Homo sapiens: one gene and its partner. Changing the gene in region 1 together with any one later gene gives a genetic interaction. Each region holds a gene or a part of one and is shown on either strand. Other genes may lie near its edges.

Region 1 (5,064 bases):
AAAAAAAAAAAGAGTAATTAGAAACTTTTATAGCAATTTGACATTGCCATAACATTGTTATTCTGTTTTACAAAAATACTGTGGATTGAGGTCCTTCATGAAAAAGTGTGAATAGTACTTGTTTAAGCAAAGTATTAAATTTAATTAGTAAATTTAGTAATTCATTTTGTCTATAATAAAGGAAATTAATTAAAAAATGGATTTGATTATCTCATTGTACTTCATATTGGACACTTAATAGCAGTGCACTTTATCTTCAGTGTTGAGGGCCTGATATTTGCAATAAATATTTGGCCAATATTACAGAACAGAATGATGTTGAGAGTCAATGTTTACCTGGCCTACTTGACTACAGATATATACAGTTTTATGAGGCTTGGCTTGCCTGACATAGACGATAGCCTAACTAGTGTGATCGAATTTTGTGGGAGCTTTTTGCTGAAAAAATTGCTACTTGGCTGTCTGCGTGTTATATTTAATGGGCTGACAGACCTGTGTATGATTTTAATGGATTTGAAGCATTTGTATTTTTGAAGGGTCAAATAGGTCAAATATAAGAAGTAAAAGAGTAAATAACATTGTAATTTTAATTAAGCATTTGTTTAGAAATTCACCTTTGAGGCGGGGCGCGGTGGCTCACGCCTGTAATCCCAGCACTTAGGGAGGCTGAGGCAGGTGGATCACGAGGTCAAGAGATCGAGAGCATCCTGGCTGACAGGGTGAAATCCCATCTCTACTAAAAATACAAAAGTTAGCCGGGCGTGGTGGCAGGCACCTGTAGTCCCAGCTACTCGGGAGGCTGAGGCAGGAGAATGGCGTGAACCTGGGAGGCGGAGCTTGCAGTGAGCCGAGATTGCGCCACTGTACTCCAGCAGCCTGGGCGACAGAGCGAGACTCCTCAAAAAAAAAAAAAAAAGAAAGAAATTCACCTTTGAGGCTGGGCGCCGTGGCTCACGCCCTAATCCCAGCACTTTCGGAGGCTGAGGGGGGTGGATCACCTGAGGTCAGGAGCTCGAGACTGGCCTGGCCAACATGGCGAAACCCCATCTCTACTAAAAATATAAAAATTACCCAGGCATGGTTGCGGGTGCCTGTAATCCCAGCTACTTGGGAGGCTGAGGCAGGGAGAATCACTTGAAACTGGGAGGTGGAGGTTGCAGTGAGCCCAGACTGTGCCATTGCACTCCAGCCTGGGCAACAGAGCGAGACTGTCTCAAAAAAAAAAAAAGAAAATCACCTTTGAAACATTGATTGTAGTTTTGCAGTAGCAAAGTTTGGAACCTAAATGTCCACTGAGTGACTACATTAAAAAAAAAAAATTGGCCAGGCACGGTGGCTCATGCCTGTAATCCCAGCACTTTGGGAGGCCGAGGCGGGCGGATCAGCTGAGGTCGGGATTTCGAGACCAGCCTGACCAACATGGAGAAACCCCGTCTCTACTACAAATTCAAAATTAGCCAGGCATGGTGGCGCATGCCTGTAATCCCAGCTACTCAGGAGGCTGAGGCAGGGGAATCACTTGAACCCAGGAGGTGGAGGTTGTGGTGAGCCGAGATCGCACCATTGCACTTCAGCCTGGGCAACAAAGCAAAACTCCATCTCAAAAAAAAAAAAAAAAAAAAATTATAACGTATCTATTCAGAATGAAGATGCTCTCAATGTACTGACAATGGTAAGCTCTCCAAGAAATATTAAGAGAAAAAAAAACAAAATTCAGAATAGAATCTATAGAATCTATACTAATTTCTTTTTGAAAAGAAAAAATAATGTATTATTTGATTTTGCTTATATATGCATAAACAAACTGAAAGACTATACATGAAATTATTAACAATACTTATGTGTGTGATAGAGATGTATATATGGGTACTATGTAAATGGAAGAGAGAAAAGGGAGACTTTATATATTCTCCCAACAAAACAGCATTTTGTTATAGCAGGGTTTTTTTTGCTTGTTTGTTTTTGAGACAGAGTATCACTCTGTCGCCCAGGCTGAAGTGCAGTGGCACGATCTCAGCTCACTGCAGCCTCCGCCTCCTGTGTTCATTCTCCTGCCTCAGCCTGCCAAGTAGCTGTGACTACAGGTGTGAGTGACCACACCCACTTAATTTTTGTATTTTTAGTAGAGACGAGGTGTCACCGTGTTGGTCAGTCTGGTCTGGAACTCCCAGCCTCAGGTGATCTGCCCACCTGGGCCTTCCAAAGTGCTGGGATTACAGGTGTGAGCCACTGCACCTGGCCTGTTATAGCAGTTTTTAAACACAAAAGTTGGCCAGGCGTGGTGCCTCACGCCTGTAATCCCAGCACTTTGGAAGGCCATGGTGGGCAGATCACCTGAGGCTGGGAGTTCTTGACCAACCTGGCCAACATGGTGAAACGCTATGTCTGCTGAAAATACAAAAATTAGCTTGGCATGGTGGGTACAGACCTGTAATCCCAGCTACTCAGTGTCTGAGGCAGGAGAATTGCTGACCCGGTGGCAGAGGTTTACAGTGAGCCAAGACAGCGCCACTGCACTCCAGCCTGGGCGACAGAGCAAGACTCCATCTCAAAAATAAATAAACACAAAAGTTGAAAGAATTGTGCCGTGAACACCCATTTATATAATACCAACGACCTAGATTCTACAATTAACATCTTATTATATTATGTATCTATCAGGTTTTCTTTTATTTTTCAAACCCAAGATAATCTCTGTAAAGTTTTTCCATCAAATTTTTCTTGATGCATTTCAAAGTATGTTGTAGGTGTACACATCGGTATACCTCACCCCTCTTACATAACACTGACTTACAATTTACTGTTTTAAGGTTCTTTAGGTAATTTTTTTTTTTTGAGACGAGGCTTGCTCTGTCACCCAGGCTGGAGTGCCATCTCGGCTCACTGCAAGCTCCGCCTTCCGGGTTCACACCATTCTCCTACCTCAGCTTCCCAAGTAGCTGGGACTACAGGCGCCCGCCATCACGGCCGGCTAATTTTTTTTTGTATTTTTAGTAGAGACGGGGTTTCACCGTGTTAGCCAGGATGGTCTCGATCTCCTGACCTCATGATCCGCCTGCCTCGGCCCCCCAAAGTGCTGGGATTACAGGCATGAGCCACCATGCTCGGCATTTTTTTTTTTTTTTGAGACGGAGTCTCGCTCTGTCACCAGGCAGGAGTGCAGTGGCACAATCTTGGCTCACTGCAACCTCCACCTCCCAGGTTCAAGCGATTCTTCCACCTCAGCCTCCCGAATAGCGGGGACTACAGGCACACGCCACCAAGCCCAGCTAATTTTTGTAATTTTAGTAGAGACGGGGTTTCACCATGCTGACCAGGATGGTCTCTTTCTTTTTTTTTTTTTTTGAGATGGAGTCTTGCTCTTTCGCCAGGCTGGAGTGCAGTGGCGAGATCTCAGCTCACCACAACCTCCGCCTCCCAGGTTCAAGCGATTCCCCTGCCTCAGCCTCCCAAGTAGCTGGGATTACAGGCATGTGCCACCACACCTGGCTAATTTTTTTTGTATTTCAGTAGAGACGGGGTTTCACCATGTTGGCCAAGACAGCCTTGATCTCCTGACCTGATTATCTGCCCACCTCGGCCTCCTAAAGTGCTAGAATTAGCTGGTCTCTGGTCTCTATCTCTTGACCTTGTGATTCGCCCACCTCCGCTTCCCAAAGTGCTGGGATTACAGGTGTGAGCCACCGCACCTGGCTTTTAGGTAAAATTTTAAGGTAAAATTAGTTCTGAGGCCGGGTGCAGTGGTTCACACCTGTAATCCCAGCACTTTGGGAGGCCGAGATGGGCGGATCACCTGAAGTCAGGAGTTCAAGACCAGTGTGGCCAACATGGTGAAACCCCATCTCTACAAAAATTTGCCGGGCATGATGGTGGGTACCTATAATCCCAGCTACCGGGGAGGCTGAGGTGGGAGAATCGCTTGAACCCAGAAGGCGGAGGTTGCAGTGGGCCGAGATCCTGCCATTGCACTCCAGCCTGGTCGACAGAGCAAGACTACGTCTCAAACAAAAAAAATTAGTTCTAATATGAAGAGTAGGGTACCAGCGTAATTAATTGATTGCTTGAAATGCTTGTCTTAATTGTACCATTTAATACGTTTGTTATCCTATGAAACCCATACCTCTTTCAAGGTTTATAACTTCACTGTCACCCCAGGAGTTTCTTTCATGCTCCTTTCCAGGCAGTCCCAGTCCCTATACCCCAAAGAACTTTTTCCCACGATAGATTAGTTGTGTCTGGCATAGTAATCCATGTAAGTGGGATCATTCTTGATTTTACTTTTTTGTGCAAGCCTTCTTTATTCCGCATGATATTTTTGAGATTTATCCATGTTGTTGGATAAATCAGTAGTTAATTCCTTTTTTTTTCTTGGCTCAGTAATACTACATTGTATGACTATATCCATTTATCTAGTCTCCTATAGATGGACATCCTGGTTGTTTTCAGTTTTGGGGTTATTATGACTAAAACTAAGAGCTTTCTTGTATGAGGCTTTTTGTGAGCATAAGCTTTCATTTCTTTTAGGTAACTATAGGGTTTTTTTTTTTTTTCAGATGGAGCTTTGCTCTGTCACCCAGGCTGGAGTGCAGTGGCACGATCTCGGCTCACTGCAGCCTCTGCCTCCCAGATTCAAGCAATTCTCCTGCCTCAGGCTCCCAAGTAGCTTGGATTACAGGCATGTGCCACCACGCCTGGCTAATTTTTTTGTATTTTTAGTAGAGACGAGGTTTCACCATATTGGCCAGGCTGGTCTCGAACTCCTGACCTTGTGATCCACCCACCTCGACCTCCCAAAGTGCTGGGATTACAGGCATGAGCCGCTGCACCCGGCCAACTATAGGTTTTTATATTTAAAAATATTTTAAACCGTATGATTGGATTTTGTGATAATAAAGAAAAATTCAGCTTTTAATCTCTTAAAAAAATGAGACTAGAAAATTAATAAGTAAATGTTCTCTCTTCCACCAGAAGTATACTGAATTGTTCAGTGATACCCTATTGGATGTGTAATCAAGTGTGGATTCCTTTGCATAACAATTAGGGCCCTACATTCCTATAAGTCTG
Region 2 (5,064 bases), on another chromosome or scaffold:
CAAAGTACTGGGATTACAGGCATGAGCCACCGCACCCAGCCTCTAGTTTCTTCTCTTATCACTTTCCACCCTCAAATTCCATGCTCAAAACACAGTGAACAATTTATAGATTCCCAAAGGCTCCCTACTTTTTTGCTTTCAAATCTTGGTACATGCTGCTCCCTCTCCCTGGAATATCCTTCTCCCCTTCTTTACCAAGCTAATAATGCTATGTATCCTTCAAAAATAAGCTCAGCTGCTCCTTCCTCTGAGAGAATGTCTCCCTCCAACTTTATATGTCCTCACTTACATGTTCTATTAGAGCATCTACTTTAGTTTGTTTAGCATTTAATTGATTGTACTTGGCTGTTAACTTATTTCTCCCACTACACTCCTTTGAATACAGGGACTGGGTCTTTTAACTCCACACCCCTAATCTAGCACAATTTTCCCAATTTCCTTTATCATAAAAAATACTGGAGGAAAAGCATGAAAATTATAAAATCCCAAGCTCTACACCAGACCAACTGACTCAGAACCCCCAGAAGAGATTTTTAGCAAGTGTGTACATACACATACACATGCACATATATGTCCCTGCCAAGAATCCCCGGTGATTCTTATGACCAAGAAAATTTGAGAAAAAAAAAAACTGATCTAACAAGCTGCCTGGCAACAGCAGAATGCTCAGTAAAAGGTAGCTGAATGTGTAAATGAATAAGTGAAATAGGAAGCCAGTACAGCCTATTCAGGTGTAGTAGAGTGGAAAAAGCATGGCTTTTGAAGTCAACTCTGGGTTCAAATCCCAATTTCACTACTCTTTCTGATTCACGTTGTCCAAAAGGTTATGCCTGCTGTCCTTAGTTAAACTGTACACCTATCTGACTACAAACACACGTATAACAGCACATAGCTACCATGTTTGTGAGCCTCTACGTATACACAAAAGTAAAGCAAAAACAAGGGAGAAAAGACAGAAGAGATGACTTCACTATCACTGCCCACTAGGTGAAACTGATTCTGAATTTAGAATTTCCACCCTCCCTCTCCATACCACTGTTCCAAAGAAGAGTGATCTACAAATTAGAACTGATCTTCCATTAAGTATTTCCTTAGTGGCCATGACTGATTTGAACTTGATTTGACTATTTTCTACTCTGAAAAGAAGCTTGCAGGTATTATAAGAACATACCTCTTGGGTTTGTTTTCTGGCTACTTGAGAAAAAAGATCTTCACAAAATCTTGGAATTATTCCTGGTTCTTCACTAAATCCCATCATCCTGAAAAATACATTATGAATAAGGGGGAAATAAAACTAATTCTTTCTTTAAAATTCTTTTTGGGGAAATAGGCTGGGAAGGGAGTAGGAAGCAAGTTCACTGAATCTCATAATTAAGAATCTGGACTCTGGAGTCAAATCTGCCTGAGTCCAAATCTTGACTCCAAGATATTTAACCTCACTAAACTTCAATTTCCTCTACTGTAAAACAGGAATAATACAACTATCTAATTCAGAGAATTGTTGTGAAAGAATATAAGCAAAGTCTTTAGCACAGTGTCTGGAATATAGTAAGAACTCAAATGTTGGGCAACCCGCTTGGGACCCCTCCACGCTGTGGACTGTGGAAGCTCTGTTCTTTCGCTCTTCACAACAAACCTTGCTACAAAAAAAAAAAAAAAAAAAAAAAAAAAAGAACTCAAATGTTAGCTACTGTTAAAATGCTGAGTATTTCTTTCTAGGACAGGTATTATTATCATAGCTACCATTTATCAGATGCCCCTCCACCCTTTTTTCTTAAGAGATGGGGACTAAGTTGCCCAGGCTGGACTCGAACTCCTGCACTTAAGCAATCCTCCTACCTCAGCTTCCCAAGTAGCTGAGACTACAGGTGTGTGCCATCACATCTAGCTTAGATGCCTTACTTTTAATTCTCACCAAAATACTTAAAAGATAACCTCTCTAGGCCTTAGTTTATGTAAAATATATAAAGTACAGTAAAATGGGGCCAATGATAATTACAAGATGAATTGTATCAAGGTAAATGTATAAACTGAAGCCCAGAGGCTAAGTAAATTGCCCAAGTTTGCAGAACTGGTATATAAAATGGATGAGATTTGGGCCAAGATCTGTGTGATTTCAAAACTATATTCTTTCTATCACCCCTATGCCACTTCTCACAAAAGTATATTTAAACACTTCTGGATAATTGCATTTCCAATACAACTTACGTATATGATTTTCCAGAGCCAGTCTGACCATAAGCAAAAAGACAGGTATTGAAGCCTTCGAAGGCTCTTTCTAGGAGTGGTGCTGCTAGCTTCTCATAGACAGTTGTCTGGCTAGCGTAGTGAGGATGACATTCATCAAAAGACCAGAATGAAACATCATAAATAAAATTATAAACTTGTTTCGTGTCAGGGTGTTCCACAGTTATTTCTTTCCCACTCATGAAGACTACCTGGGATGCTTTTTCAATCTTCTCTCTTGAAAGAAGCACAAAGAAAAAAATCAAGTAACTAAAATGATCAAGGGTATTATTCTCACAGAACATAATAAATACCTCAAAACTATTTAAACAATCTTCCAAGGCAAGATAATTCTGTAGTTTTATGTGGAAAATGCAGATAAGCAAACATAATTCTAGTGGGTTTCCAAAATATATTTCCTGAGGCTCCAGTGCCACCAAAGGGAAAATCCCAGATTCCTCCAGAAAACCTATCCTACTTTTACAAGATTTTTTCCTCTTTTTTTTTTCTCTTGAACTATACCTTTTCCCATCCCACCTACTATAATCTACCTATACTCTTCATCCAAATCTACATCTTTATTATACAAATTTGGGGGGGTACCAATCTAAATAAAGCTGGCATAAAATACAAATATCTAATTTTAACAAACTCAGTTGACTGTAAGTTTCAATCATAAGTCTCTCTTGGCTACTAAAGATCTCTCCTCCTTCCTCTAGATTCTCTCCCTTAAAATCATGAATCTTTCTGTATATCCTTTTTCCCTTTGAGACTTAGGTGGAAATCTTTCATTTACTTTAGATCTACAGAAAAACATCATCACTCTTTGTCTGGCTCCAGATATACACTCCCTCCCCGCTCCATCCCTGACTCTGAGACTGCTTTAAATCAGAATTTATTCTGGAAAAAACACCTGCCTCATCAATTTGACAAGTACTCTACCCTGGCCCTGCTTTCAAGGCTTGTCTGATGAGTTTGGAATCAGGCACTTGGTCCCTTACTAAGTTCAGTATAGTCATCCATCTTGCATTTTGTCCCTACCAGCTCTTTCTATTGTTTCTCTTCCTATCATGGTTCTTGAGGCTCTATTAGACATTCCAATTCTCTCAAACCAACTCACCCTCAGTTCTCCCTCTTAATACTAACCCATTTGCACGAAAAAGATTCTACAGTACTGTATAACTTGCCTTTAACTACTGACCCCTTAGGTTCAAACTGGAGGTTCCTGCCCTGATGCAGTGGTCACCAAATCCTCTTCTAACTTGCTTAGATACACAGCTTCAAGTTAAACACTACTAACTCTGTGAAGTTTTTCACTGTCCCTTAAAATATTTTAAACAACTACATTAAAATATTTTAAAACAATTACATTTTGTCACATTCACATTTTGTCATGTCCATCTTTTCCAACCTTATCTTTAATCTGTGTCTTCCCCACCCACAACCACTTTTAGAGAGAGATTTTTTGCCATCAAAATCAAATCTAATGTATCACTGCATTTATAACTACTATATAGTAATCGGAGACAATGATGATGATAATCACCACTCTGGAAAGGGTTTTGAAAGGACCTCTTTAGGGAACCAGTAATTTGTTATGGCTCTTCTTTTTTTTGAGACAGTCTCGTTCTGTCGCCCAGGCTGGAGTGCAGTGGCCTGATGTCAGCTCAATGCAGCCTCTGCCTCCCGGGTTCAAGTGATTCTCCTGCCTCAGCCTCCCGAGTAGCTGGGATTACAGGTGTGCAACACCATGCCCAGCTAATTTTTGTATTTTTAGTAGAGACAGGGTATCACCATATTGGCCAGGCTGGTCTCAAACCCCTGGCCTCAAGTGATCTGCCTGCCTTGACCTCCCAAAGCAATGGGATTACAGGCGTGACCCACCACACCTGGCCTGTTATGGCTCTTTTTAAGGGATAGGTATAACATTCCAGCATATATTGCAGATCTGAAAGCAGATTTCATTAGAGACCTAAGTGACTTATTCAGACTTTTTAAAAGCAATATATCTAGAGAAACTTCAATATACAAAATATGGTGATTCAATTTTTTAATTTTATAGTCAGTGATCAAAAATTATCAACACACACTACAACTAGACCTAAAAGTTCTTTCTATATAAAAGTATTGCCAACAAGTTTGAAGATGCACGAATACACTGACCTTCCAAAGGCAGAGAGGAATTAAAGGTACCTTACATGTAACTGCTTGGCTTTAGATTTTAAAAGGCATCACATACCTCTTGGTGAAAGGTCTTACGCGTACTGCCACTGTCACTTGACTATTCTCTACTTTTAAGGGGTCTTTTCCTGCAGAGGTGTTCTGAACTACAGTTTCTTCTTCGGGAAGAATTGTATTTTCTGCGGATCTTTCCTGTTTATTTGCAAGAAAGGAACTTTTTGGTCTTTGTTTAACTTGAAGGTTAGACATTCTATTCTTCAGTATTGATGGAGCTGGGCTCTTAAGCTGAGGCAGGCTGCACTTTGTTGTCAGTTTGTGTTCTGTTGTACATTTTGTAGGTGTTCTTTTTTCTAAGCTCCCAAATTTATTTGAAGTTTTTGCAATTTCCTTCCCAATACTTCTATGATACAAGTTTCCTGTTCCCAACACTTTGATATCCAACTTGCTCTGAGTAGGTTTCGTTGTCAAGTGTCCTGATCTAACAACTTCAGTCTGACTCAGGGAAGCAATGGGTGGTCTATTACTTGAGTACTTAAGTGCAACATTTTCATTTGCTCTACTGGGGGCAGAAAATGTTTCTTTGTATTTCTTATCAGCCATCATTTCAATGACCTGTGGATCTTCATCTAAAGGTACAGAAGAGGCAACAAAAGAGTT

What was found. Genes that interact genetically often act in the same process or in processes that back each other up.
Region 2: changes in CAMLG (region 1) and KIF14 together harm fitness more than expected from each alone (negative genetic interaction), as found in Homo sapiens cells (one large-scale study listed by BioGRID).

What each region holds. Positions count from the first base shown.
Region 1 is NC_000005.10:134,744,536-134,749,599, forward strand, and holds part of CAMLG (guided entry of tail-anchored proteins factor CAMLG), read left to right. Parts: intron 1-5,064. UniProt on the Homo sapiens protein: Required for the post-translational delivery of tail-anchored (TA) proteins to the endoplasmic reticulum.
Region 2 is NC_000001.11:200,613,147-200,618,210, forward strand, and holds part of KIF14 (kinesin-like protein KIF14), read right to left. Parts: coding exon 4,466-5,064; intron 2,464-4,465; coding exon 2,209-2,463; intron 1,260-2,208; coding exon 1,172-1,259; intron 1-1,171. UniProt on the Homo sapiens protein: Microtubule motor protein that binds to microtubules with high affinity through each tubulin heterodimer and has an ATPase activity. Plays a role in many processes like cell division, cytokinesis and also in cell proliferation and apoptosis.